4 linked regions of the Homo sapiens genome follow. Each later gene encodes a partner of the first gene's protein in a complex. Each region holds a gene or a part of one and is shown on either strand. Other genes may lie near its edges. The genes, in order: PHF20, KANSL3, OGT and KANSL1.

What was found.
Region 2: PHF20 (region 1) and KANSL3 share a complex: the UniProt entries of both Homo sapiens proteins name them as parts of the NSL complex.
Region 3: PHF20 (region 1) and OGT share a complex: the UniProt entries of both Homo sapiens proteins name them as parts of the NSL complex.
Region 4: PHF20 (region 1) and KANSL1 share a complex: the UniProt entries of both Homo sapiens proteins name them as parts of the NSL complex.

What each region holds. Positions count from the first base shown.
Region 1 is NC_000020.11:35,943,010-35,950,035, forward strand, and holds part of PHF20 (PHD finger protein 20), read left to right. Parts: intron 1-4,475; coding exon 4,476-4,618; 3' UTR 4,619-7,026. UniProt on the Homo sapiens protein: Methyllysine-binding protein, component of the MOF histone acetyltransferase protein complex.
Region 2 is NC_000002.12:96,600,300-96,607,325, reverse strand, and holds part of KANSL3 (KAT8 regulatory NSL complex subunit 3), read left to right. Parts: intron 1-278; coding exon of another isoform or gene 279-356; intron 357-1,788; coding exon of another isoform or gene 1,789-1,814; coding exon 1,815-2,006; intron 2,007-2,462; coding exon 2,463-2,547; intron 2,548-2,945; coding exon 2,946-3,076; intron 3,077-4,463; coding exon 4,464-4,573; intron 4,574-4,987; coding exon 4,988-5,210; intron 5,211-5,549; coding exon 5,550-5,683; intron 5,684-6,822; coding exon of another isoform or gene 6,823-6,852; exon of another isoform or gene 6,853-7,026. UniProt on the Homo sapiens protein: Non-catalytic component of the NSL histone acetyltransferase complex, a multiprotein complex that mediates histone H4 acetylation at 'Lys-5'- and 'Lys-8' (H4K5ac and H4K8ac) at transcription start sites and promotes transcription initiation.
Region 3 is NC_000023.11:71,536,088-71,543,113, forward strand, and holds part of OGT (UDP-N-acetylglucosamine--peptide N-acetylglucosaminyltransferase 110 kDa subunit), read left to right. Parts: intron 1-90; coding exon 91-271; intron 272-1,741; coding exon 1,742-1,985; intron 1,986-7,026. UniProt on the Homo sapiens protein: Catalyzes the transfer of a single N-acetylglucosamine from UDP-GlcNAc to a serine or threonine residue in cytoplasmic and nuclear proteins resulting in their modification with a beta-linked N-acetylglucosamine (O-GlcNAc).
Region 4 is NC_000017.11:46,036,412-46,043,437, forward strand, and holds part of KANSL1 (KAT8 regulatory NSL complex subunit 1), read right to left. Parts: intron 3,474-7,026; coding exon 3,291-3,473; intron 2,805-3,290; coding exon 2,616-2,804; intron 2,276-2,615; coding exon 2,127-2,275; intron 1-2,126. UniProt on the Homo sapiens protein: Non-catalytic component of the NSL histone acetyltransferase complex, a multiprotein complex that mediates histone H4 acetylation at 'Lys-5'- and 'Lys-8' (H4K5ac and H4K8ac) at transcription start sites and promotes transcription initiation.

The sequences.
Region 1 (7,026 bases):
AGACAGGGTTTCACTGTGTTAGCCAGGATGGTCTCGATCTCCTGACCTCATGATCCGCCCACCTTGGCCTCCCAAAGTGCTGGGATTATAGACGTGAGCCACCGTACCCAGCCCTAAACTAAGCTTTCATAACCAAGTTTTAAAATAGGAATTTGGATGTAACATTCCTTTTTTAAAAAGCCGGCCTGCTTAGCTGGGTGTGGTGGTGCACACGTATAATCCTAGCTACTTGGGAGGCTGAAGCAGCAGAATCTAGGAGGCGGAGGTTGCAGTGAGCTGAGATCATATCACTGCACTCCAGACTGGGCAACAGAGTGAGACTCAGTCTGAAAATAAAAAATTTAAAAAAATTTAAAAGCTGACCTGGCGTGGTGGCTCACACTTGTAATCCCAGTGCTTTGGGAGGCCAAGGAGTTCAAGGTTACAGTGAGCTATGATCGTGTCACTGTACTCCAGCCTGGGTGACAGAGCAAGACCCCATTTCTTTAAAAAAAAAAAAAAAAAAGCCTAGTAAGCTATTATATGAAATATATATATATATATGCCATTGTTTTACAATTGGCCATTATTTAATTATTTATGTAGTTATATGAATAGTACTTTATTTATTTATTTATTTATTTATTTTTGAGACGGAGTCTCGGTCTGTTGCCCAGGCTGGAGTGCAGTGGCACGATCTCGGCTCACCACAACCTCCACCTCCTGGCTTCAAGCAATTCTCCTGCTTCAGCCTCCCGAGTAGCTGGGATTATAGGTGCACACCGCCATGCCTGGCTAATTTTTGTATTTTTAATAGAGACGGGGTTTCACTATGTTGGCCAGGCTGGTCTCGATCTCCTGACCTCATGATCTGCCTGCCTCGGGCTCCCAAAGTGCTGGGATTACAGGTGTGAGCCACTGCACCCAGCCTGAACAGTACTTTAAAACTAAAAGACAAAGGATATTTAATGACCATGAAAAGTAAAAAAGTCTTTTGGCATTAGAGAGATTATTTTCTTAAATAAAAAATGTTGCCTTGGTGAGCAGTGGTCTCTATACACATGATCTTAGTGTATTTGAACAGAATTTTTTCCTCTGTAACCTTCTGTCTTGCTAGCAACCACTATGCTAGTTGGAAGCTGTTCTGCATCTTTAAAAGAGACACTTGGGATGGTGCAGCACATGGTATGGAGAGGGTGGCCTGCTGGATGCTGGGGTCCAGAGGAGATGCTGTTGACTTCCCACAGTCCTGGCTTTGTTCTTCAGCCTAACAGACCTAGACAGACAGCTTCCATCTCAGGAACTCCACACACTCCTGTTAACCAAGCTCAGGCACTACTGAGTGGCTTAGACTCTTCCAGTCTGAGCGTTGGTGCGCTTTCACACTGTGCATGCCTCCTGGGCCACCGTAGTATCGGGATGTCTTTGGTGAGCCTGGAACTAGATCCAAGGTAGTTAGGGTGACCTTAAGAGGGGCCTCTCAGCAACTGTAGGATCATCTTGCAAAAGATTGACTGACTCTCTTTGCTGTTGGAGTGACCCATCCAGTCCTGACTGCCTTTTGTCCATTTATTTATTTTTATTTTATTTTATTTTTTTAAGACGGAGTCTTGCTCTTTCTCGCCCAGGCTGGAGTACAGTGGCATGATCTCGGCTTACTGAAGCCTCTGCCTCCCAGGTTTAAGCGACTCTTCCTTCCTCAGCCTCCCAAGTAGCAGGCAGATGCCTGCCACCACACCTGGCTGATTTTGTATTTTTAATAGAGATGGGGTTTCACCATGTTGGCCAGGCTTGTCTTGAATTTCTGACCTCAGGTGATCCACCTCCCTTGACCTCCCAAGGTGTTGGGATTACAGGCGTGCACGTCCGGCCTCTCCATTTATTCTTCTGCCTGTTTGCTGAACAGTCCCCTGTCTCCTTCTAGTTTTTTTTAAAGACTTACTGGTGTTTTGAAACTGGTCACTATCCAGTTTTCTTGCTCAGCAGGCCACTAGTTCCTCTCACATGACTGATCTTTTACTAATGGTTTTCAAGCTTAAGTCTGAGGAGGTGGTCTTATTTTTCTTATTTCCAAGTCCTTGTACTTGCTGGAATTAGGAAGAGAGAGGGTTCCTCCTTCTTGGAACCCCCAAATACCAACAAGAAATATGATGGAGGAGGATAAACTACATAGGGCCCAGAGCAATGGGTAGGGCGCTTTGCTGGACCACACATTCCTTCTCTCGCTGTGTTTGTTGCAGGCTTGCCACATTTCAGACACAGGTGAGTGTTAGGGATATAGTGGCAAGCAAGGCAGACTCAGCCTTTGCCCTCGTGGAACTTGATCTAGTGGGAGAGACATATATTAAACAAATCATCCCATTACCTGTAATGACAAACCATAGTAAATGCTCAAAGGAGAACATGTGATATCATAGCACCTGTAACACAAGGACCAGATTCAGGGTATAGGGTTGGGGAAGGCTTCCCTAAAGAATAGCTCACAAGAAACAGAGGATTTAGAAAGGTGGAGAGGAAGGTAGGGCTGCATCTGAGGACAGGAGAGGATTGCGCAGTAGGTTGCAGGCTGCTTGATGAAGAGGTACTGGGTGGGCCTTTCTTTTGCTGCACTCCAGGGTCCAGAAGGTGCTCAGTACAGGTTGGTGCATGGACTAGAAAGGCTACAGGCAGGCTGGGATAGCACAGGGGCTACCTGCAGGGGGTGGTTCTTGTCAAAGGTGCAGGGTTCCCAGATGGTCTCTCCCCAAATGCCAGAGCTTTAGGGGGTAGCTTAGGGAAGAACAAACATCTTTCTGTAGAGAAATACTTGTTCTCACAAGCAAGACAGCTTTCTAGATATTGAACCAATGATGATAATGTTAATTAATACCTGAAATCTTACATTAAATATTTAAAGGGGTCCTGCATGGTGGTTCATGCCTGTAATCCTAGCACTTTCAAAGTGGCCAAGGCAGGTGGATCACCTGAGGTCAGGAGTTCGAGGCCAGCCTGGCCAACATGATGAAACCCCATCTCTACTAAAAATAACAAAAATTAGCCAGGCGTGGTGGTGTGTGCCTGTAATACCATCTCCTCAGGAGGCTGAGGCAGGAGAATCGCCTGTACCCGGGAGGCGGAGGTTGCAGTGAGTCGAGATCATTGCCATTGTACTCCAGCCCAGGCAACAAGAGCGAAACTCTGTCTCAAAAGAAAAAAAAAGGCCAGGCCCAGTGGCTCATGCCTGTAATCCTAGCAGTTTGGGAGGCCGAGGTGGGTGGATCACCTGAGGTCAGGAGTTTGAGACCAAAATACAAAAATTCGCCGGGCGTGGTGGCACATGCCTGTAATCCCAGCTACTTTGGAGGCTGAGGCAGGAGAATCGCTTGAACCTAGGAGGCAGAGATTACAGTGAGCTGAGATGGCGCCACTGCACTCCAGCCTGGGCGACACAGTGAGACTCCATCTCAAAAAAATAAATAAATAAGTAAATAAATAAAGGGAGAAAATAATAACAGAGTATTCTGTGCCACTGATGATTGCGTATCAATCAGGAATTAATATGAAGCAAATCAGAGTTTATGATATACAAATAGACCTTTTCAAGACCCTATAGATTTTCATTTTTCTTGACAGGATGCTAAAACACCAGGCTCTCTGATTTTCAACATGGGAAAGCTTTTTATTTTTTATTTTATTTTATTTTATTTTATTTTATTTATTTTATTTTATTTTATTTTATTATTTTATTTATTTTATTTTTTGAGATGGAGTCTCGCTTTGTCGCCAGGCTGGAGTGCAGTGGCACGATCTCGGCTCACTGCGACCTCCGCCTCCCGGGTTCAAGCAATTCTCCTGCCTCAGCTTCCTGAGTAGCTGGGACTACAGACGGGCACCACCATGCCTGGCTAATTTTTGTATTTTTAGTGGAGATGGGGTTTCACCATGTTGGCCAGGATGGTCTTGATCTCTTGACCTTGTGATCTGCCCGCCTCGACCTCCCAAAGTGCTGGGATTATAGGCATGTGCCACCGCGCCCGGCTGGGAAAGCTTTTTAAAGAGTGAGTGGTAACACTCAGAAAGGTGCTTCCTTCCAAGACTTCTAGACTCTGGTAACAGTAGCCTCTGGCAATGTGTGGCTGTTTAACCAAAACTGAATAAAATTTAAAATTCAGTTCCTCAGTTGCATTAGCCATGTTTCCAGCGCTCAATAGCTGCATAAGGCTAGTGGCTACTGTATTGGATGACACAGACTTGGACCATTGATCATCGCAGAAAGTTCTTTTGGACTGTGCTGCTCTAAAGCATTTGTGTTTTGTCCTGGGAGTACCACTTTGTAGAGCAGGTGTTGACACAGTGCTGGCTGAAATGGCCCTTCCTCCCTTGCCCCATGGAGGCTGAAATGGCCCTTCCTCCCTTGCCCCATGTCTGATGGAATAAGGTGCTGAAATGCTTGCTGATGTTCTTGCAAATCAAGTGTTGGGAGTTCACTAGGTCTCATCTCTCTCTTCTGCCGACAGTGTTGGAGAGCTGGCTGGACTACACTGGGGAACTGGAGCCCCCTGAGCCGCTGGCCAGGCTTCCGCAGCTCAAGCATTGTATCAAGCAGCTGCTGATGGACCTGGGCAAGGTGCAGCAGATCGCCCTCTGCTGCTCAACATGAAACTGGGCACCCAAAACTCATGGGGGCACAATCCTGGGGCACCTGCAGGAGGAGCTTCGCATATTTAAATAAATAAACCTAGCATGCTGAATGCACGTGACACCGACTGACTTCAGGGATCTGGGCCAGGAGTGTGGTGGACATTGGACAAAGAGGCCATTTTGGCTGCGGGAGGACACTCTGATCTCGAAGCCTGCCATAAAGGTAGCAAATAGACTCTTGGGATTCCCCTCTTCTGTGCACATCGTTGAATGAAGAGAGTCTTTTTGCACAAACTTCACTTGAAATTGTGCCACTGATGATAAACGGAATGAGAGCCAAAAAAGTTTAGTTGGAGACAGTTGTAAATTCAATTTGGAGTTTATTTAATTGACTTTTCTATCACGTTGGGGCACATGCCAACTCCCTGGTTTCTTCCTGGCATGGTGTTTGGGCAGCAGGCATCATTTTCCTTTTCTAGCTTCATAGGAATATTGTGAGCTCACCATGCTGTGGAGGTTGGGAAAGAGCAGAGTCTTGGCTGCCCTGCTTTCTCCTTAGGACTCTTCACTTTTCTCACCACATCTCTTGCATGACTTCATGGTACTGGGGACAAGTTTGTATGCCTTCACCCCAGAGCTGGCTGGGTTATGGCTTTTGTAGCAGAGCCCATACAGCCTATGGAAGAACTAGAATCTCACTCACAGTAATAAGAATCTAGGAGGAATTCCAAACCGAAGCAGGCAGGGTCTGGAACCCAAAGGACAGCATTTTCTACCCACTTCTTAATATTGACAGCTTCCCCGTTCTATTTAATGTCCAAAAATGTTTCCCAAAATTTCAAACTCTTTCACTGTAAAGATTTGTTACAAAGAATGTGGTTTGGGGAATTACCTTATTTTATATTGTTGTAAACAAACTTCAAATTCTACATGTGCGACTTTTCTCCTTCCTGAAGGGTGTTTAGTAGTCAGCGTTTTCAGAATTGTTTTGTTACTATACTTTAACATTTTACATTTCCTGTTTGTATTATTTTGTGAGAGCAAGGTGATCATGCTGCTTAAGGTCCAGGTACAACCTATTTGTACCTTTTGAGACAATATTTGTGTTACTTTTGCAGGTTACGGTTCCACATGTAATTGCTATATTTTGTTTTGTTTTTCCTTACTAGGCAAAGTTAAAATGTTCCATGCTTTGAGGAGTGACCCATTTCACTACTTTGTTTTCTTATCACTAAAGGCAAAAATCAAAGCACAGTTGTCCATTAACACTTATAAGTTAATTATGGGTTTATGAGTCTGTAATGTTATATGCTGCAAACATTTACTATGTAAACGTGAAGTAGCCAATAATATCTCAATAGTAGTAACAGTATCTTTAGCGACCTTTGGAATAGTTAAGCACAGGTCATTGTGGACATGAATTCAGGCCTCTGTACTAAAATCTATTTCAGGGAATGTTCTGTCTAGTGATTTGCTCACCATTTGATATATAATGAATTATAGGACAAGTATAAGCTGATCTGCTATAGCTGTCCATCAGAGAGAATACACGTGGCTATAACATCTATAACAAAACGACGATTCCTCTACAAGAGGCTGTTTCTCACTGCTAACGTTGGTGTTTCTGGCGTGGGAAGAAATGCACAGGCGTGCATGGCATGCACGTTCAGACAGCTGCATTGTAAGAGTTCTGTCATGCAGTCTGAAAAGGGAAGAAACAGGATGGCTTTCTGTAGCCACACCTGTGAGGCGTGATGATTGTTGTATTATTAGATTACTGATTTTTCTTTTCTGAAAATACATTTGAGTTTTAATCACATCTGTGGAAGCTGTAACTTTTAAGGTAGTCAATTTCATGTCTTGTTCAACGATGTAAGCAGAAACTGAATTGCCCTAATTTTGCCAACTGGCCATTATTGGGATTATTGTTTAAATTTTTGGTAAAGGAAGTAATCTCCTTTCATTCATTGTGACTTTTGTTCTTAGGGAAGCAGAGAAGACTCCCCAAGTTCTTATAACCTCATTGTGCTTCCCTAATTTAAAGCCATGTTGAGGGGCTCCATTCCCAATTCCTGGGTCAAGGTGAATTAACCCTATGTTGGAGCACTGGAAACCGTTATTTGCAAACATTGCTGTTACCATTTAGAAATATGTGCACTATCAGCTGGGTGCAGTGGCTCACGTCTGTAATCCCAGCACTTTGGGAGGCCGAGGCAGGTGGATCACCTGAGGTCAGGAGTTCGAGACCAGCCTGGCCAACAGGGTGAAACCCCGTCTCTACTAAAAGTACAAAAATTAGCTGGGCGTGGTGGCGGACGCCTGTAATCTCAGCTACTTGGGAGGCTGAAGCAGGAGAGGTGCTGGAACCTGGGAGGCGGAGGTTGAAGTGAGCCGAGATTGCGCTATTGCACTCCAGCTCGGGCGACA
Region 2 (7,026 bases), on another chromosome or scaffold:
AGCGAACATATATGGAGTCCTTGCTGTGTGCCATGCCTTCTTCATGGCACTCGCATTGCTGTAGTTTGTTGAGTTTTGGCATGGCCCCATGAGGCAGATAGTACTATTCAGTTTTAGATGCTTCTACAGACTGACTCCGTGGCAGAGTCAGGTTGCCATGCAGTAATTTCAGAAGGAGCCCCTATTGGCCATTTTCTACAACCTTTTTTCTTATTCCCTCTCTTTTTCTCCCTTCTCTGGCTGGCTGTGATTCTGTAATTCTTTCTGATTCATTCCAGCACAGTTTGCTGCTTTTCTGAAACAAAATATGCTGGTGAGGAAAGCTCTTCCTCCTGGCACCTCCTCCTGTCTCTTTGGTGAGTATTACTCTTTCTTGCCTGCTCGTCCACTACATTCTGCTCCTCAACCCCTTATTTATTTTCCATCTCTGCCTCTCATCTGCCTCAGTTTGGTTTCCTCCTGTTCTTTTCTCTCTCTTTCTTTGTATTCTTTTGTTTTGCTGACCCCTTTTGCTTACTCTGTAGTCTTTGCCCTTTTTCCATTCTTTTGTTTGCTTCTCATGGTGTTTTCTTTTTTGTCTCTTAGTGTGGTTCTTTCTTTCACTACGGTCTTGGCTCTGCTGCTTTTTTGTATGTCTGTGGCATTGCCTGAGTCTCAGTTTCCTTGTGTGTTTTTCTCCCTGCCTCCTGTCCTGTGTTTATCTGGTGGCTACAAGCCTACCAGCCACATATCAGCATAGAACCTGAAACTCCTTTCCCCTACACCCTCCTTCCTACTCTGATTTTAGCCAGTGCATTTGTCCCCTAAGCAATCCTTCTAGCTGGTTATGTCCTGACTGTTGCCTCATGCCAGGACCCCTCCTCCCTCCTCATGTGACTGCTACCTTCCTCCCCACACCAGTCTTTGCTTCCCTGTGCTACAAGAGGACTAGGGTGGACTTCTGGGTTTAAAGAGGAGGGAATCTTTGAGGAAGCTTGAAAGATAACCTAAGAGTCCAAAAAGCTTGGCTGTATACATGATGAGCCTGTTTGATTCAGTGGAAGTGGAAGCCCATGTGTGAACAGATGGCCTTTGTCTGTACTAGTACACATGACCTGGGGACTAGGTTGTGACATGGGCCAGTGTTGCCCTGTTACTTTTGGGTGGGAGCCGTGAGGTTGCCTGGTTGAGGTACTCTCTCTCCTAGTAGCTACTCATAGCCAGCTTTTAGTCCTGGTGACACTCCTCTTCATTGCCTCCATTTGGCAAGTGGATCCTCAACTGTGGGCTCTTAGGGCAGGGTGGGACTCTTGAGAGCCTTTGGAAAACTCTACTTTTTAGAGAGGACTGGATGACCTGCTCCTCCATGAGTTCTCATAGAATGTTTGATGTCTCCAACTGTGTGATGATGTGGGGAGGGCTTCAGACAGGAAGATGATCACATTTTTTGAGTCTGAGAAGGACTGTTTACTCATTCTGTTGAATCCTCTATTTTTGTTGTTGTTGCCATTGGCCTTGGCTAGGCAGGGTCAGGATGTCTTCTGTCTTTTAATTCCTACCAACTCAGGGCCCCTTCTCTTCCGATTCCAGTGCAGGATGAGGGATGAGAAGGGTGCCATCCTCTAAGAAGGGCAAAGTGGGGTCCCCCACGGACAGGGCCTGAGTGAAGTGGTCCTGAAGCATGGGCAGTCTCCTTTGAGGGGTGGCCCTGTACGTAGAGTGGTTATCCTGTGTGTTCTACATTCTACACATGGCTGTGTTGGTGCTGGTATTGACTGAGTGTCTGTTGGGATTTTTTGGATTGTGGAGGATCTCAACTCAGCTCCATGTCTTAGTTCCCATTTCATCAGAACCACCAGAGGAAGGAGAGAAAGAGGATCTTAGGGTTCAGCTGAAGCGACACCATCCCTCGAGTCCCCTTCCTGGCAGTAAGACCTCCAAACGACCGAAGATCAAGGTGTCCCTTATCTCCCAAGGGGACACAGCTGGAGGGCCTTGTGCTCCTTCCCAAGGAAGTGCTCCAGAAGGTGAGTTTCTCTTGGTACGTTAAATGAGAACTGAGCTCTCTCAGGTACACAGCATTGCCCTTTGGTGGCCATTCACCAGCATGTCAGCCTTTGCTTTATTTTGAGAGATGCCCGGAGCAAAGAAGACATGAGTCTGTACATGTGGGTAAAGTTGGCATGAGTCCATCTGAATGAGGACCAGGCAGGCAGAATATGAGAGGAAGCTGTGCCATCGTTCAAAGCATCCTATATTTTGTTCTTTTTTTGTTGGCTTCAATTAAAGGTACAGAATATTTCAGGAAGTTTAGAAAATAGAAGGAAAAAATAACCCCAACTCTCCCTACTCTAGCATAGTTCATCTTTTTTCATTTTCCAGTTTTCGTCCGTAATATCTTGCATTTAGCCTAAGCTGTGGAACCTGGAAACATAGAGGCCAAATAGGACTGACCAGGGGCCTTGGGGTTTTCTGTTTTGAAGCTGCAGGTGGGAAGCCCATCACCATGACACTGGGGCAGGCTTCAGCAGGGGCCAAGGAGCTCACAGGACTTCTCACCACAGCCAAGTGAGTGTTTATTGGACCATCTGTGTCTATTCCTTTTTTCCCTTCCCTCTGTTTCTGGTTTATTTAGTGCTTTGGAAAATGATGGATTCTGGATTCTTGTCAGTTTTGGAAATGTGACTTACTTCTGATTGGGATCTTTGTCTTGCTTTTGAGTCAACCCAGAGTTCACTTTTACTTAAGACTCCAAATCGTCCCCTGGCTTTTGCTATAAGTCCTGTAAGTAAGGACTTTTAGAAGACTAGAGGCCAGGTACAGAAAGTGGGACAAAGAAGCTGAAGGTTTTTGGTGTATGTCTGCTGCTGAAAGCCTTGCTGGGCCCCACTCTGTACCCTGCCAGTGTTGCTAGGGCTTGCTGTCCTGTGACCTTTGGATAACAGAGCTCCTTCCTTTGTCTCCAGGTCCAGTTCTTCTGAAGGTGGAGTCTCAGCCAGCCCAGTCCCTTCAGTGGTCTCCAGCAGCACTGCACCCAGTGCCTTGCACACACTGCAGAGCCGCCTGGTGGCCACATCTCCTGGCAGCTCCCTCCCAGGTATCTTGTGGCCCAGCATTCTCCCCTTCCAACACAGAATTTTTGGTCTGCTGCTTCTGGGTGGTCCTGGGAAAGCATCCCTGGAGCTAAATCCATAGGATGGGCCTCTGGGTCTTAGAGTGATCATAGAGGCTTGACGTGAAGCTGGAATTAGCTTGGGCAGAGGGATTCCTTGGCCTTGAATAAATGCAGTGAGTAAATGTCCTGGTCTGCAAGTGAGTAAATGTTCCAGTCTACAGGTGCTGTATCCTCTACTGTAAGGAGAAATAGCCGATAGGACATATATGTATAGTCAGCCTTTCTTATCCACAGGAGATTGGTTCTAGGACCCTCACCACTACCAAAATCCATGGATGCTCAAGTCCCTTATATGAAATTATGTCATACCGTTGGAATTCTATATCCACAGGTTTCTATCCGTGGTTGTTTGAATCTGCAAATCTGCTGTGAAGCTCACAGATAATTGAGAGCTGACTGTGGTTTTACTTTGCTGTTTTAAGCACATCTGCCTGAATAAAACTGGAAATGGTGCTACACTGGGCATTAGCAAAATGAGACATTTTTCTGTCTGTGCTTGTCTCTCTCTTTGTCCTACCCACTAACCCTACTTTGAAAGGCCTGTTGCCTGAGCCCAGCAGGGCCAAGGCATTGCAGAAACCCTCTCCTGGCCAGGCATGGTGACTCACACCTGTAATCCCAACACTTTGGGAGGCCGAGGTGGGTGGATCACCTGAGGTCAGGAGTTTGAGACCAGCCTGGCCAATATGGTGAAACCCCGTTTCTACTAAAAATACAAAAAATTAGCCGGGTGTGGTGGTGGGCACCTGTAATCCCAGCTGCTTGGTAGGCTGAGGCAGGAGAATCGCTTGAACCCAGGAGGTGGAGGTTGCAGTGAGCTGAGATTGTGCCATTGCGCTCCAGCCTGGGCAACGAGAGCGAAACTCCGTCTCAAAAAAAAATAAAATAAAATAAACCCTTTTCCTTTAAGAGAACCTTTCTTATTGCTTTGAGGCTACTTCCTTACTGCTTTGATTGTGTGAGGCGAAGTGAAAGTTGGATATTTATAATTCTTTTGGCTTAAAAAGTTCTTCCCTGGAAAGAAAGGAACAAACTTGGATTTCTCAAAATGGTCTAAAATGTATGACTGATGGTTTGCAGCAGGTGCAGAGCAAGTCCGGGGCAGTGTCTGGCACAGTACCTTTCCTGTGTGGCATCCATTGCGTGTGTGCCTAGTTGGGGAGAGCTTCCTGCCTTCTCTCTGAGGACGGGTGTCCAAGGGCAAGCACCACTGGTGTTTTAGTTGGTGGTGAGGGTGGATGGATGTGGCTGCTCTCGGGATAGTGCAAGTGATTGAGTCTCTACTGATTCCTGCTATGTCCTCTCTTAGGGGCCACATCAGCCAGCAGCCTCCTCCAAGGCCTCAGCTTCAGCTTGCAGGATATCAGCAGCAAGACCTCTGGCCTTCCAGCAAATCCCTCCCCAGGACCAGCCCCACAGGTGCACATCTGCCATCTGCTGGGCTGGGCAGGTGTAGGGAGGAGGCCTCCTCAGCTTAGTTGGTTTTGGCAGGGAAACTAGGTCTGGAGTCAGTGGATCAAGGACAAACAGCCTTCTAGCTACATAGCAGGGAACTTACAAAAGTTAAGGTCTATCATTTACTGTGTGACCTTGGGCAAGTTTCTTGACCACTCTGTTTTTGTTTCTTTGTCTATAAAATGAGGTAATAATAGTACCTCCCTCATAGAGTTGTTATAAGAATGAAATAATATATGCAAAATGCCTGGAAGAGTACCTTGCATGTAGTAGGCACTCAATACATGTTAGCCTTTAATAATATGCTGTGGGCCCTCCAAGCTCGAATGTTGCTGTTGGGCGACAGCTTCTGATCACCTGGGCTTGTGTGTCCCACAGGCCACCAGTGTGAAGTTGCCCACCCCCATGCAGAGCCTGGGTGCCATCACCACGGGCACCAGCACCATTGTCCGTACCATTCCTGTGGCCACCACTCTCTCCTCCTTGGGTGCCACTCCTGGTGGGAAGCCCACAGCCATCCACCAGCTGCTGACCAATGGGGGCCTCGCTAAGTTGGCAAGCAGCCTCCCTGGCCTGGCTCAGATCTCTAACCAAGCATCAGGTGAGTCTCTCATGAGAACTGTGGGGACTCCCAGATCTGGGATCTTTCCCCCAGGACCTTCCCATCTCATGTGGGCAAGGTATGATGTTGAAACCAGTCCCACAGGGTCCTGGCATTGACCTTTGGATTCAGCTGTGTGGACCCATCCCCCAGAGAGGTTGAGAGAACACAGGCTGTTTCCTGTTGCCTTTCAGATTGACTGATAGGGCATAGATGACCCAGCTGGGGAGGAGGCCAAGGGACTGTGTTATGTGGGGGAGAAGCTCTCCAGGAAAGGAAAGCCTCAGTAGAAGGTGGAGAGTGTGACTCAAAAATTCTGCTTCTCTCTCTTTATCTCAGGCTTGAAGGTCCCCACCACCATTACTCTGACACTTCGTGGCCAGCCGAGCAGGATCACTACACTGAGCCCTATGGGCTCAGGAGCAGCCCCATCCGAGGAGTCCTCTTCCCAGGTGCTGCCCTCCAGCTCACAGGTGAGTCTGCCAGGAAGGACTGAGGACATGGGCTTCATTATTGGGAAGTTTAAGACCAGCTGACTGGCTGATTGAAGGGGCTGCCCATGCACTGGACAGACGAGATTCAGATTCAAATTCAAATCTGTATTCTGGAGTTTGTGGCTTTATAATATTGAGCGAATCATGGACATCTTTGAGCTTCCTCTTCTACATCCCTCCCTTGATATTGTGAAGAGTACATATGTTCAAGTGGGTAGCAGTGTCTAGTATTTAATGTTTTTGTTTACTTTTCCTTTCGTTTCATTTTTTTCTCATCCTTGGTTTCATCCTTCAGAGGTTATGAGTAGAGGCTACTTGGCTAATGCTCTTTCTTTGTTTTTATTTTTATTTTTTGAGATGGAGTCTTGCTCTATCGCCCAAGCTGGAGTGCAGGGGTGTGATCTCGGCTCCCTGCAACCTCCACCTCCCCGGTTCAAGCAATTCTCCTGCCTCAGCCTCCCAAGTAACTGGGATTACAGGCGCCCGCCACCATGCCCGGCTACAACAGGGTTTCACTGTGTTGACCAGGCTGGCCTCGTACTCCTGACCTCAAGTGATCTACTTGTCTCGGCCTCTGAAAGTGCTGGGATTACAGGTGTGAGCCACCGCTCCTGGCCCTTTCTTTGTTTTTAAGGACATGGAGACAGAGATATCTCACTATGTTGCCCAAGCTGGCCTTGAACTCCAAGGTTTAAGTGGTCCTCCCGCCTCGGCCCCCAAGTATAATACTCTTTCTTTGACATTGGCTTTCTAGCACTGTGCCTTCCCATATCTTAGCATTTATTGCTGTCTTTTTAGGGCACAGCTAGGTTTTTATAGGTCTCACCCAGGAAGTCATGATTAGTTTCTCTTAGCTGATCTAATTTCCCCTGTGACCTTTTCAAGTCAAATATTTCTAATCTTAAAATGGTAATCTGAGGAGCCACTCAAAGATTAGAAGTTAAGCCAAAAAACAGTTTGAGTCTAGTACTGAGTGTGCTTTCCTTCAGTATCCGCTATACAGCCAAGGCCTTCCTGTGTCTCCCTGTCCTTTCCACCATGTCAACCTGCTTGTGAACTGGAGGTGCAGTGATAGTTCCTGAGCCATTCTAAAAGCTCTTCTGTCTCTTCCTCTTTAGGGAAAATACTGCACAGAGGTCAACACCTGACATTCGTTGGGATCATAGCTACCTTTTTTTGCAGAGGGATGGAAATGTTTTAATTTTATCTTATTTCTTATTTTTTCAATTATAAAAATGATTATGCTTATTTTAAATAATTCAAACATTATAGAAATAATTAATTTAGAAAGGGAAAGTTTCCCATGATGCTACTCCTAGAGA
Region 3 (7,026 bases), on another chromosome or scaffold:
AATATACCATATTTTTACATTTTTTTGGTTTACATTTCTAACTTTTTGTTTTCCCCCCTCCTTCCCTCAAATGTTTTGATGATTCTCCAGAACCAACGAAACGTATGCTTTCCTTCCAAGGGTTAGCTGAGTTGGCACATCGAGAATATCAGGCAGGAGATTTTGAGGCAGCTGAGAGACACTGCATGCAGCTCTGGAGACAAGAGCCAGACAATACTGGTGTGCTTTTATTACTTTCATCTATACACTTCCAGTGTCGAAGGCTGGACAGGTAGGAGATGTTGGGGTACCTGCTCGTGATTGCTGCCTCTGGGTGCTGAGCTTGAAAAATGATACTTAAATATTTGAACTTGAAATTTTTCCAGTACCGGGTTTCAACTGAGCCGCCAACGCACATCTGCTCTCTTGCCCACTTGTGACATGCCCAGCTGCCAGTTTTTCTCCTTCCTTTTGTGGTGGTGGTTATATTATCAGTATGACTAGGGACCTTTTCTAGATTTTTCTATCTGGGTCTGCTGCTTTCTAGACTCTGTTCAGGTAATAAATTATTATCAATGTATATCTGAGCATCCAGTCTCCCTTTCATGAGACCTGTCAGTTTGAGGGACTGAAATGCTCAGAAATGATGGTTATGTATGCTGTGGCAGGAGATGCATACCTGGAGTTTCATTAAGTTGTTATGGTGTGTTGCTTTTAGTTAATCAGTTGAATTAATCAAAAGGGAAGAATTTGTGTTCCTGTCCTTTTAATAATTGTTATTCTGGCATATTTAGACACTTAAAGATGTGCATCATTAAATCTTAAATGGAAAATGAGACTCGTGCACATAGCTTTCCATTTTTTATCTTAATGATCATGATTTCCAATGTGGTGGGTTTTTTTTTTTTTTTTTTTTTTTGAGACGGAGTTTCGCTCTTGTTGCCTAGGCTGGAGTGCAGCGGCGCCATCTCGGCTCACTGCAACTCTGCCTCCTGGGTTCAAGCGATTCTTCTGCCTCAGCCTCCTGAGTAGCTGGGATTACAGGCATGTGCCACCACGCCCAGCTAATTTTTGTATTTTTAGTAGAAACGGGGTTTCTCCATGTTGGTCAGGCTGGTCTCAAACTCCCGACCTCAGGTGATCTGCTCGCATTGGCTTCCCAAAGTGCTGGGATTACAGACATCAGCCACCGCGCCCGGCCAATGTGGTAGTTTTGTAACAAGACTCTAGTTAGAATTTTTTTCTTTTTTTTGAGGTGGAGTTTTGCTCTTGTCACCCAGGCTGGAGTGCAGTGGCGCAATCTCAGCTCACTGCAACCTCCGCCTCCCGGGTTCAAGCGATTCTCCTGCCTCAGCCTCCTGAGTAGTTGAGATTACAGGCGCCTGCCATCATGCGTGGCTAAATTTTTGTATTTTTAGTGGAGACGGGGTTTCACCATATTGGCCAGGCTGGTCTCGAACACCTGACCTCAGGTGATCCTCCCGCCTCAGCCTCCCAAAGTGCTGGGATTACAGGCGTGAGCCACTGCGCCCAGCCAATAATTTTATTTAATAAGAAAAAGCTTTTCATTTTGAAATCTAGAATACCTCCACTTTTGAAAATCTTTGATTTCCCAAATTTTTCTTGCTATGCACTAGTTAAAAGATAAGGTATTATATAATGAGCAATAGCACAGATCTCAAACTGTTTGAGTTGCATATGGGCCATACCTTCTTTTCTGTAACGTGCATACCCATGCATTAACACTTGTCGCCTTTTCCAGATCTGCTCACTTTAGCACTCTGGCAATTAAACAGAACCCCCTTCTGGCAGAAGCTTATTCGAATTTGGGGAATGTGTACAAGGAAAGAGGGCAGTTGCAGGAGGCAATTGAGCATTATCGACATGCATTGCGTCTCAAACCTGATTTCATCGATGGTTATATTAACCTGGCAGCCGCCTTGGTAGCAGCGGGTGACATGGAAGGGGCAGTACAAGCTTACGTCTCTGCTCTTCAGTACAATCCTGTGAGTAAAATTTTAATGGTTACTTTCCCTTCCTAGAAACCCAGAAAGAAACATAGTGTGATATTTCAGACACTAAAGTAGGTTTTCACATGGAATAAAGTCAAAAGTTTAGAAATGCGTATGTACTTAAAATGGTGAAATTGCTTTTAGCTGGTCTGCGTTATGCTAAAATATTTGTTTTATTTAGCAAGTTATATTAAAAAGCATAAAAATTCTTATTGCAAGAAACTACATCAATTTTAAAATAACACGTATAAAGTACAGAGCACATGACTTTTTTCTGTTGTGATTAACTTTGGATAAATTCTGATAAGTGTTTGCAAGTTAATTGATTTTCAAGGAATGGTGGATAATGGGTCTTAATCTGTAAAATCTGTAATATAAAATAGTTTGAAACAAGATGCCACTATATGGAATGATGTGAAAATTAGGCTACAAAATTTCTTCCTCAATATCCTATTCTCTTCTCTTTCAATGTAATTAGAAGTCATAGAATTTAGATGATACTACTTATACTGGGCTTTTGATTAGTTTAAAAATTTTTTTTGTCTAAGTTGCAGATGTGTTCTGGGAACAAGTAAGGCTCAGCTGGCAGACCTTAAATTCATACTGTGTTTAGGATCTCCGAAAGATACAAAAACATAAGACTTTCCCTCAGAACTTATGATGTAGTTAGAGAAAGTAGATGTAAACTTAAGAGGTAAATGATAGTGGGGTTATAGAAATCTAGAAAAAGTTCCCAAGTTACATTGTCAACATTCAGTTTTGTAACCAACCTGGAAATGGCTAATAGTTTATTTTAGCTACCGTTTACTGAAAGTCTGTGTGGTCAGACACTCTACTGACAGCTTTAAATGATTGGTCTTAGTTAATCCTCACAATAATTCTTCAAAATAGATGATATTATTTCTGATTTTTATCAATTAAAAAAAAACCATGGACTCAGGGTTATGTGGCTTTCATGGGGACAAAGCTAGTAATGAAGTATTAATAGATATTAAAACCTGAGTCTGAATATCCTCAAAGCAAATGTTGAAGTGAAAAGAAATAAAAGTGGGATGATGTGCCCAGAGGGCACTCACCCATCAAAGCAGCCCTTGAGCACAGTTAAAAAACCATTGATCATATTTTGCTGTCCCTTATTTTTTGGTTAGGAAACTGAAACTAAATTTAGTAGTTTGTTCAAAGATCCGAAGTCACTTCTCATGATGATATCTATTAACAATTTTTGTAGTTAATTTTGAGAGTTTAAACGTGTCCTTTTTAGAAAATCCATTGCTTTAAAAAACATTTTTTTTTAAGAGATGGAGTCTTGCTATGTTGCCCAGGCTGTACTCATACTCCTGGGCTCAAGCAGTCCTCCTGCCTCAGCCTCCAGAGTAGCTGGGACTATAGGTGTGTGCCACCACACCCAGCTTCTAAATTTATTGGTTTTTGAATGGATACAGTGAATACCTCCAGTTAGCACTCTTGGAGGTAGCAAATGAAACTAATTTCTTGTCTATCTTTTCTGAGACACTCAGTGTATATATATGTACATTTGAGTGACTTTTTGTAAGTTTTATTGCAATACTAATCTAGCTAGTTACCCACATAAAGTTTTAGGGAGCCTGGTATGTACTGCCACTGGGCCTTGGACCCCATTTTTCCCAGGGCTCAGGGCTCACCTCTGTACCCAGTTGTCACAGTAAGTTCTTTACCTTTATTAATCAGGTTGATTCTACTCTTATTGATAGTGTACCCTCTTACACAGCTGTGGTTCTTGCCATCTTTAACTCTAATGCCCTTGGCTCAGGTTTCCAGTTGCCTATGTGTGTAGCAGAGCAGTCATTGCTACTGATAGTGTACCCAAGCAGTAGGACTATGCTGAGAAGGAAAACTAAAGTGAGAGATGGAACCTTGCTATTTAATATCTAACCTGCTGTTAGCAGGAAGCTTATTGTTGTACCCTACCAAGGAAGTGAGATAGTACTAAAATAAATCATGGGATTACCTCTTGAATGCATTGAATGGCCATGTGTTGTCATCTGGTTCTATGTTTCTTCTAGTGGAAGGTGCTGCTTTACTTATTTATTACTGTTTTTACCAATAAGAATGAAAATGGGATTGTGCAAGTTCCCTTGATTTCAACTAAACATGCCATAGTGATCATATTTTAATTTATTTCAGGATATCTAAAGTCTTAACTAGATTTAAACTTACTGTCAAATGCCCGTTGTCAGTTCAGTACTGGTAGAACCTTGCGTCTGTTCCTTATGTTCTTGTTGACAGTGCTTAAATGCATCATTAGTACATTGTGTACCTGAATCATAGATGTAGTTGGCATTCTATGAAAAATGGTTAAAGAAACTCAGGTTATTTTGGTTTTGCAGCAGTGAAAGAGTAGAATGTTAAGGTGGTATCTTTGGTAACCTTGGTAACTGTTTTCAACAGTGTTTATCTTTTTAAGTTAATAGATATGTCAATTTAGAAGTTGTTCTCTGTGACTTGATTATAGAAATTATCTTTGAGACAGCTATCTCATTTTTTTCATTCTGAATTATCTTCTATAATTATAATGTTGGGTGTTTTCATAATTTTGGTAAGATTTTAGTCTGTCATTTTTTTTTTTTTTTTGGAGACGGAGTTTTGCCCTTGTCACCCAGGCTGGAGTGCAGTGGCGCGATCTCGGCTCACTGCAACCTCTGCCTCCTGGGTTCAAACGATTCTTCTGCCTCAGCCTCCGAAGTAGCTGGGATCACAGGTGCCCACCACCATGCCTGGCTAATTTTTTGTATTTTTACAAAAACAGGCTTTCACCATGTTGGCCAGGCTTGTCTTGAACTCCTGGCCTCAACAGATCCGCCTGCTTCAGCCTCCCAAAGTGCTGGGATTACAGGCGTGAACCACTGTGCCTGGCAGTCTGTTGTATTTGAAGGTGTTATTGCAGATAGCACCTTGCAGTGACAGCACATGTTCTTTGACATGGTGACTCACTAGAGTTGCCTATACCTGGCAATTCCTTTTGCAAATTATGTATAAAATTGTCCTTTCTGTAACGGCTATAACCCTGAGTTGTTTTAAACAGGTCTGTTTCTGAATCTATAGGTTGTTGAATTGTTGCTTGTGCTTTGATTGTGGATGCACAGAATGGAGAGCTGCTGGCATCCTGGCCATCATGTGTGTTCCTGTCATGTTATTTGTTACTTGTTACTGCTGAGCCTCTCTTATACAGCTGCACTGTAGAAAACCATATATTTCGATTCTTCTCTGTTCTGCTTTCTGTTGTATATTTCGATTCTTCTCTGTTCTGCTTTTTGTTAAGGTTGCTGTGCAAATGTCACATTTAAATATGTGAGTGCTTATTGTGCATACAATGCTTTGTTAGGAAATGGGGAGATGTGTTGTGGGGGAAGTTGCGGGTTATAATATAAGACAGGACCTGACCCGTAAAGGAAAAAATGGTGTAAGTTCCTTGGATGATAATTGTTGGAGAGTATTAATCAGAAGATTTCCTCGAGTGGGTGCTTATGACCTAAGCATTCTGTAGGAAGGTAAATAGCAAGTAGACTTCCTTGGCTGAAGTGGTGAGTCAAGTAGTAACAAGAAGTGAATGTAGTAGAGGAGAGTCAATTGGAAGATTTATAAAGAATAGAGAGGCTGAGGAGTTTGAATTTAATTTGAGAGGCAATTGAGAATTACTGTAGGTTTTTATCGACCTGATTTTACTTCATATGTATGTACGTGTCTAGATGTTGTGGCTGGTGGGGGTGGGAGGCTCTAGGAGGAAAGGCAGGAAACTGATGCAATCTTAGGAGAAATAGTTCTACAGGAAAATCTTGCTCATTTCTATCTCCTTTTATTCTCACGATTTTCCCTTGTATACAGTGCCCTCCTCCTTTGTCTATTAAAACCCTACTCATCCTTCAAGGCCCAGCTTAAACTTCTCTTATGAGCTCATCATCTAGTTCTCTTAAAATTCTTTACTACTGAGTGGGCATTTAGTGTGTGCCTTGTCTTTTCACATAGATTGTAAGCCCCTTGATGATAAGGATTCTATATCTTTTCCCTATAGTTCCAGGCATGTTATTGAATTGAGTAACAGTTTGCCTGAAATGTATTAACCTGGGATGGATAAAATGGGCTAGTTTTGAGAAATATAATTGTCAAAAACATTTTGATTTGACAGATGAAGCAGAAGTGATGTCTTGGGTTTTGAACTTTTGGGAGAATGGTGGTGCCCGTGCGTTTTCTAGAAATTAGCTGTTCATGCACATAGGTTTGGATCCCCAAACAGGAGAATTGGATTTCACCGTTACATTTAATATGATGTTTTAGCTTTTCCTAAAACTGCCTTATTGATTATCTTATAGTAATCTTGAAGATAATGTATTTTTAACTATGAGCATTGTGTTAACTTGATATAGTATACTGTAATGGATCTAGATGATAACAAAATATAGATATGCTGTCAGGACTTAAGTGGCATCCATCCAAGAGTTCATAGAAACTAGAGGGTAATAAAATTACGCAACAGCTGGCTACTATGTATGGCCATTACAGTCATTGTTGGAGAATTATTGCAAGACTTCTGATTATTATGACTTAGAAAAGGCATAGGAATTGGTAAAAGTCCAAACATGTATAACCACAATTATCAAGTAGTAGAAGGAGCTTGTATGCATGGATTGGATTATGCAGTCATGGTCTGCCAAAACAGGGGTAACCCTTTCAGTTTAGAAAAAAACATAACCATACAAAGTAGATAGCAAGATTATATAATTCATTACTTCTGAGAGTATAGTGTTAAAAAGTGCTCAGGCTAATTAGAGGAGAAGTCAAATAAGATTAATGGTACCTTTGATGTTTTGAGGATTAGTATTAGCCTTTTGTGCTTGAAGTGATGGGAGACAACCTTACTCTCTAGAACATCAGTCATTGCTTGAAGGACAGTATTGAGTCAGGGAGATGATGGAACTGACCCAGTATGGCTGACCGTAAGATTGTTGTGTGGCAGCCTGTACTTTGTTGGCAGACTTTTTGGTTCACCTGATGGATGATA
Region 4 (7,026 bases), on another chromosome or scaffold:
GAAAATATTTGGGGGAAAAAAATTGTGTCTGTACTGAAAAGGTACAGATTTTTCTTTTCATTATTCTCTAAACAATACAGCATACTATTTTTATAGCATTTACATTGCATTAGGTATTATCAGTAATCTGGAGATGATTTAAAGTATATGGGATTTAAAGCATACACATAGGTTATATGCAAATACTATGCCATTTTATATTAGGGACATGAGCAACAATAGCTTTTGCTATCTATGGGAGGTCCTGGAACCAATCCCCACTGCAGATACTGCAGATACTGAGAGCCTGCTGTTATCTGGCCTATCTTCTTTCTTTTTTTTTTTTTGAGACGAAGTCTTGCTGCGACGCCCAGGCTTGAGTGCAATGGCTTGATCTCCGCTCACTGGAACCTCCGCTTCCCAGTTCAAGTGATTCTCCTGCCTCAGAGTAGCTGGAACTATAGGCACATGCCACCACGCCCAGTTAATTTTTGTATTTTTAGTAGGGATAGGGTTTCACCTTATTGGCCAGGATGGTCTCGAACTCCTGACCTCAAGTGATCCACCCGCCTCAGCCGCCTCCCCAAGTGCTGGGATTATAGGTGAGCGCCACTGTGCCTGGCCTATCTTCTTTTACATAAATCCAGAGTCTTTGAAAAAACTTGGCAATGAGAGAGCCTCAGGGGTTAGCATAGTGCTATACACAAAATTTTTACTCAATAAATGGTAAAAATTTCAAGTGATCCAGGCCTAAGTTAACATTCTCCAGACACAGAAATATTGAAGTGCTCACCAAGTCCTGAATCTCTGAGTTCAGATTTTCTATCAGAATTAGTTTAGACTCTTTTTTATAAATACTTTGGTTATCTGAAACCCTTTGCTGCTGGATAACTGAGTATGTGAGGGACACTACACACCTATTTAGATAAAATTTGTGGGTTACGGGGGTAAAGAAAGTCGAAGAGCAAAGAGACCATTTGGAAAAGATTGATTTGTAACAGCAAAGAGAGAACAATGTGAATTCCTACCTGATCACAGGAGCCTAGTGAGTCCATTTTATGAGCTTGGAAGTTTCCTGATCTAGGCTCTGAAGGAACTTCCTAAGTTGCCTCTGCAATACCCTCACCCAGGCTTAGCCTGTGTAGTGTAATGGTAAAAGAGCTGGCTCTACAGTCAGGCTGCCTGAGTTTGAATCATAATTATAACCCTCACAAGTTGCCTTGACAGTTTTCATGCATATAAAATGAAATCCACAGTACCAACCTACATCTCAAAAGGCATTATAACATGTAACACATGTAAATCACTGATCACTGGTATGTAGTAAGTGTTCAATAAACATTACAGTTGCAGACTTTTACATTTACCATTACATTACATTGTAATTATTATACAAAAAGGACCCTTTGAGTAGGTCCATAGCAGCTACAGGTATGTATGTTCCAAGAGGGCACACTTGAGGAATTAAAATATTAGAATGAAATTAAAGGAAATGTGTCTGGAATAGCTGTGCAAACTGCTTCCAGATGGAGTGTGGTATCGTAAAATCTGGTGTGTGCATGCCAAATGTCCTGCCATGGGGGCCTGCTGGATCTGTAATTCTGCTCTGTATACCTAAAAAGCATGGACTCTGCCTTCTCCCTTCCCTTCTCTTCTGGTACCCTCACGCCTAGTGTTTATTCTTAGTACTTCACCTCCACTCACCCAGAGAGTAAAACCAAGGAAATCAAACACTGCTTCCAACGCCCATGGGAATCTCCCCTCTACCCACCCCTCCTCTCTTGTTCACTTCTTGGGCCAACAGGATTAGGGCCACGGAACTGTTGAGTCCTGTGTGAAACTTAGTCCAACAGATCTTGAATAGTCACAGATCACCTTAAGAGTTTGTCCCTGCATCAAGCTTTCTATGGATGGCTCAGCATAAATCCATCTCTGCTATGAAAAACAACTCAAGAAAAACAACAGAAGGTCAAGTACCATGACTTTGACTTAAAAATGGTACAGACATACATACATATGTCATGATGAGCTGAGATCCTATAAATGCCCTGGGCTTTATAACCCACCCTCACACTGTCCTCTGGAGCCACTTGAGTGAGCTGTGACCTGCAGAGGGGGTGTCCGGCCAACCCCACACAGGTACTTACCGATGTGCTGGCTGTAACCTGTGAGCTAGAGCTGGCGGGTGCAGGGGAATCTGAGGAGGTGGAGAGCTGTCGCACCAAGGGACTGTGTGGAGGATGGTGGGTGGCTGCCAAGTAGCTCGAACTGCTCATGTCTGTGTGATGCTTCAACACTGCAGAAGTCAACAGAAAAGAGAGAAATACATGGCTATCTTAACCAGCGTTACTTCTAACACAAGCTTGGAATGGCAGCAATACATACTAAAGGCAAAAATGTTTTCTATGCCTAGAGGATAAAAAGGTGAAGCACACTAGCTGTGGGAAGTAGGGGCAGGGCAGAGGTTGCTGTAGCAGTTAAGAAGTGACCTCCATTTAGAAGCAGTAGCGTCCCTCTACTCTGCTTTCCTAGAAAGTGAAGGACAAAGCTGGGGGTAATTAAGAGAAGCCTAGGCTGCCCCAGAAAGCCCTGAGCAGGTGCAGTTGCAGGTAGAGGTGCCATGGGCCTGGCCCTACCTTCACTTCTCTCAGATGAATGGTCTCGCAATCTCATTTTGCTGTGGTTTGGGTCATGCACGGGTGGTGGTGGGTTGAGCAAGCGCTCTGCTTTTGGCGCTGTCACTCGCTCCACCATGGGCACGGCCCCCACATCGTCTAAGTGCTGCCTGTGGGTCCTGTCAGGCCGGGTTTGGTGATGGGACAGCTCTGAAGAGGGGAACAGAAAAAGAGCTGTGAAATATGTCCTCTCAAATATTTTCTTATTCGAGTTCCAAGCTCTCGAGTTCTCTCTAGGCCAACGCCGTATACCCAGGGCAGCAGGACAGTCCTTCAGGACTGAAGTTTCTAGTAATTTGCACAATGGCTAGGATAGGCACAGGGAGCCCAGAACCAGAGAAACATGTCACCAGGATACAGAAGACACCTGCCCGTAGATGAACTCAATGCCATGCCATTGCTGGCTGTTCACTGAGCATTTTGGGTCTTGCTCCAAGATCCATGGTGTCTAGAATAGCTCCCGAAGTCCATCTGAGAGCATCCAAGACAAGCAGAAGCAGTCACTGTGAGCTGAATTTTTTATCGGTCAACTGCCTCTCCCAACCCCAACATGCATGCAAACTACAAATTTGAGAATATAAAAGGAATGAAAAGTCACTGATACTCTGGGGGACTTCCCGGCTCCCTGACACTTACTGGCTGTTGTTAGGAAGGAGCTGACCAATTTGTGCCTGTCCTTACGAGCTGAATCTGGCAGACTGCCCGGCATGGGTGCTCTGTGCTTAAGCGATAACTTTTTGGGAGGTTTGATTTTGTCAAAAGGCTTGTTCTGCCACTGAGATTTCAGCATGCTCTGGAAATGCAGGCTTGTGGGAACATCTGCAAGAAACATAAAATGCTACAGGTTAGTCCAAACACCTGGCCTCTCTAGTGTTCAAGACCTACACTCCATCCTCCTTTAATTTGCCCAGTGGCCTGACACTTGGCAGGGCAAGTGCTGTCATATGGAAGATCTGTTTACGTGAACATTACTGAAGGTCATTCTTCTATTTGCAAGCAGGTCACTTTAGCTTTTTACTTTCAAGTCCCAAAGGGAAACAAAACAAGACACCTTTTTGGTTTGGTTGATGGAGTTTTTGTTCTTGTATCCTTGTTTGTTGAATTTACTGGTTTGAAAACATCCTGTTTCTATTCTAGAGATTTAAAAACATATTTAAGCCTACTTCTTTTCTATCAATATAAAGTTAATCAGGATGCAATTATTCAACAATATTCATTATCTATGTTATCAGGCACTGTACTGAGTACTACATACTCTCTCCAAATAAGAACTACATACCATTCTCTCTTTCCTTCCTCTGTGGCTCCGCCAATTCCCATCATGAGATTATCGGGGATTTTTAGCTGACTGGTTAATGTTCAATATCACAAATCAACATCTTTTGGACTGAATTTTTTATGCTGTTTCTTATCTTTCCATTTTCTTAGATTTTTCCCAAGAATATATCCTTGAGCAATTCCTTTAGAAAAGGAATTTCTAGATTTAAACCATTTTCCTCTCAAACATTTAAAGCTATTCAATTCTTCCGTGTATTCTAATATCCAGTGCTATATTTAAGAGGGAATCGGATTCTTTCTTACTTGTAGGTGGTCTGGTTTTTGCCTTTTAAGCTTCTGCAAAAAACAACAACAAACTTGTGGTATTACACTGACTCTACAGATCAATTTGGGGACAACTTCCATGTGTTCCACCACCAATACTGAATCTTTCAATCGACTGACGTGGTATCTCTCTCTCCATCTATTTACGTTTGTCTTGATTTTCTCTTGACAGCGTTTAGTTATTGTTGACATACCGGTCTTAAATACAATTTGTTAAGTTTATTCCTAAGAATTAATGTTTTCTGATGGGCAGAAGTTGGAAGAGTTTGCAGGGTTCAGAAGAAGACAGGAAGATGAGGGAAAGTCTGGAACTTCTTAGAGATTTGTTAAATGGTTTTGACCAAAATACTGATAGAAATACGGGCAGTGAAGGCCAGGCTGACAAAAGTCTCAGATGGAAATGATTAAAGATAGTACCTTTTAAAATTTCAACTTCAGTTCTTCATTACTAGTATATAGAAGTACAATAAACTGCTATATAATGACCTTGTAGCCTGTGAAACTACTTCGTTATAGACTTTTTCTTGTTTATTCAGTAGGATTTTCTATAGACATAAGTACATCATCTACAAATGGAGACTGTTTTACCTTTTCTTTCCAATCTGTATTCCTTTTTTACTTCTTGCCTATTACTCTGACTGGAACCTCTGGTGCTGATGTACAACTTTTAGATTTTCCTTTTCATGTTTTCAATATTCTGACATTTCACCACCATGGATAGCGGTGTGAGTCTGTTTTCAAGCTTCTGCAAAGCTTTCCAGGGATATTCAAATCTAAAAGCCAGCACATTTTTCCTCACCTCCCAGTTCCTCCTGGGAATCGGTAACCACTTGGGGCATGCTCAGAAGTTCCCGCCAGAGTCCCTATCCACTGCTTCAGAATAGAATGAAACACCACTACTTCAAGGAAGAAGGCTCTGGTGGGGTGAGAGGACAGGAAAGGAAAATCTAACCTAGCTATTCCAAAATGAGTCCAAATTTATCACCCAGACAAATGCCCAGGTCCTATCACTACTCCTTCTGCCCTTTAATTCTGGGTCAAAAACCTCCTGTAATCAGTTCCCACCTCACAGCAACTTACTCCTGGCATGTGCTTTGGGCTATCTTTCTATTTATTTCTTCACAGTTATCTTGTCTTTATCCATCTTTCAAAAATAATTACAAATTCCAGTCACTGATAGCATGTCTTCTAGAACTATTAGAAATTTATTTTGTGTGTGTGTGTGTGTGTGTGTGTGTGTGTGTATATTTTTTTTTTTTTGAGACGGAGTCTTGCTGTCGCCCAGGCTGGAGTGCAGTGGTACCATCTCGGCTCACTGCAAGCTCCGCTTCCCAGGTTCATGCCATTCTCCTGCCTCAGCCTCCTGAGTAGGTGGGACTACAGGCACCCGCCACCTCGCCCGGCTAGTTTTCTGTATTTTCAGTAGAGACGGGGTTTCACTGTGTTAGCCAGGATGGTCTCGATCTCGACCTCGTGATCCACCTGCCTCGGCCTCCCAAAGTGCTGGGATTACAGGCGTGAGCCACTGCACCCGGCCTGTTTAATATATTTTCTAAAAGCTTATGGGGTTTTGGGTCCCATAGAGCACAGAGGATATGCTCAATCTGAACTGAGGATAAGAAGGCAGGGAAGAGACGTCTAAATTAACATTACTGAACCCATTATTATCTGCCAGGCACTGTGTGTTTATCATCATGCGTGTGCCACTTAATCTTTGTAACAGTTCCATGAGGCAAACACAATTATGCTTATTTTAAAGATAGGGAACAGGTGCAGAAAGGTACATTAACTATGTCCAAGGTTACATAGTTTAATGAGTAACAACCAACTTTCAAACTCAAGATTATACAACCCTAAAGCCCATACTCTTAGACAATATACCTTGAGGCTACTCACTGATCCAGAGGATGGAGAGGATTCTGTAGTAAAGTCAATTATTTCTCAAATTACTCCCAAGAAATAGACAGTACAAAATATTTTCCAAGCCAGTTCTGCAGAGTAAAAGAAATTTAGCCACTCCTGCCTATGGTATAGATGATGAATTTCATGACACTGAATGTTATGCCTTCGAGGACTGAATGTTAGGCCTTCCAGGACTGGAATAAAAATCTGAGTTGGGGAAAAAAAAAAAAAAAAAAAGCTAACATTCTCAGGGATGATTTTTCCCAGTGGGTAAGCACCCTCAGCTCCATGATTGCTGGGCTTTATGACAGTGAAACAAATTAGGAAAACTATTAAAGTTTTAATGAAAACAAACATTTGCTACCTGTCCAAGTGTAAAAACACAGTCTCTGAGGACAGTGCTGTCTTCTCAAACATTTTTCATAATCACTCTTTTCCACACTTAAAAACTCAGCTATACCAAATCCTAGGAAATAAAGCATTGTCTAGAAGCATTCGGCCCTGTAAAACAATCTGAAAGCTGGGCTGAGCTGGAATGTATAAAAGAGGCTCAAGAAAGGAGACGAGGTCACTTCTGCCCATCCCACAATACCCCTTTGTCAGCAGAAGAGTTACTCCCACTTGGCAAAGGCTGTGTATGTTTTGTATATATATGTAATGGAACTCCAAAAAACATAGATTTTATTTTTTCCTTTTATTTTCCCCCATCGTTCTCCCAAATCTGAAAATGAAGCCAGGAAAAAAAAAAGGGACAGGGATATGAGAGACCTGGTTATAGTGAAAACAGCAATGACTAGAAACAAGTAGGCCTGGATTCAGGTCCTGGTTCTATCTCGAGTAGAAGGAGAAAGCAAGAACAAATCATTCA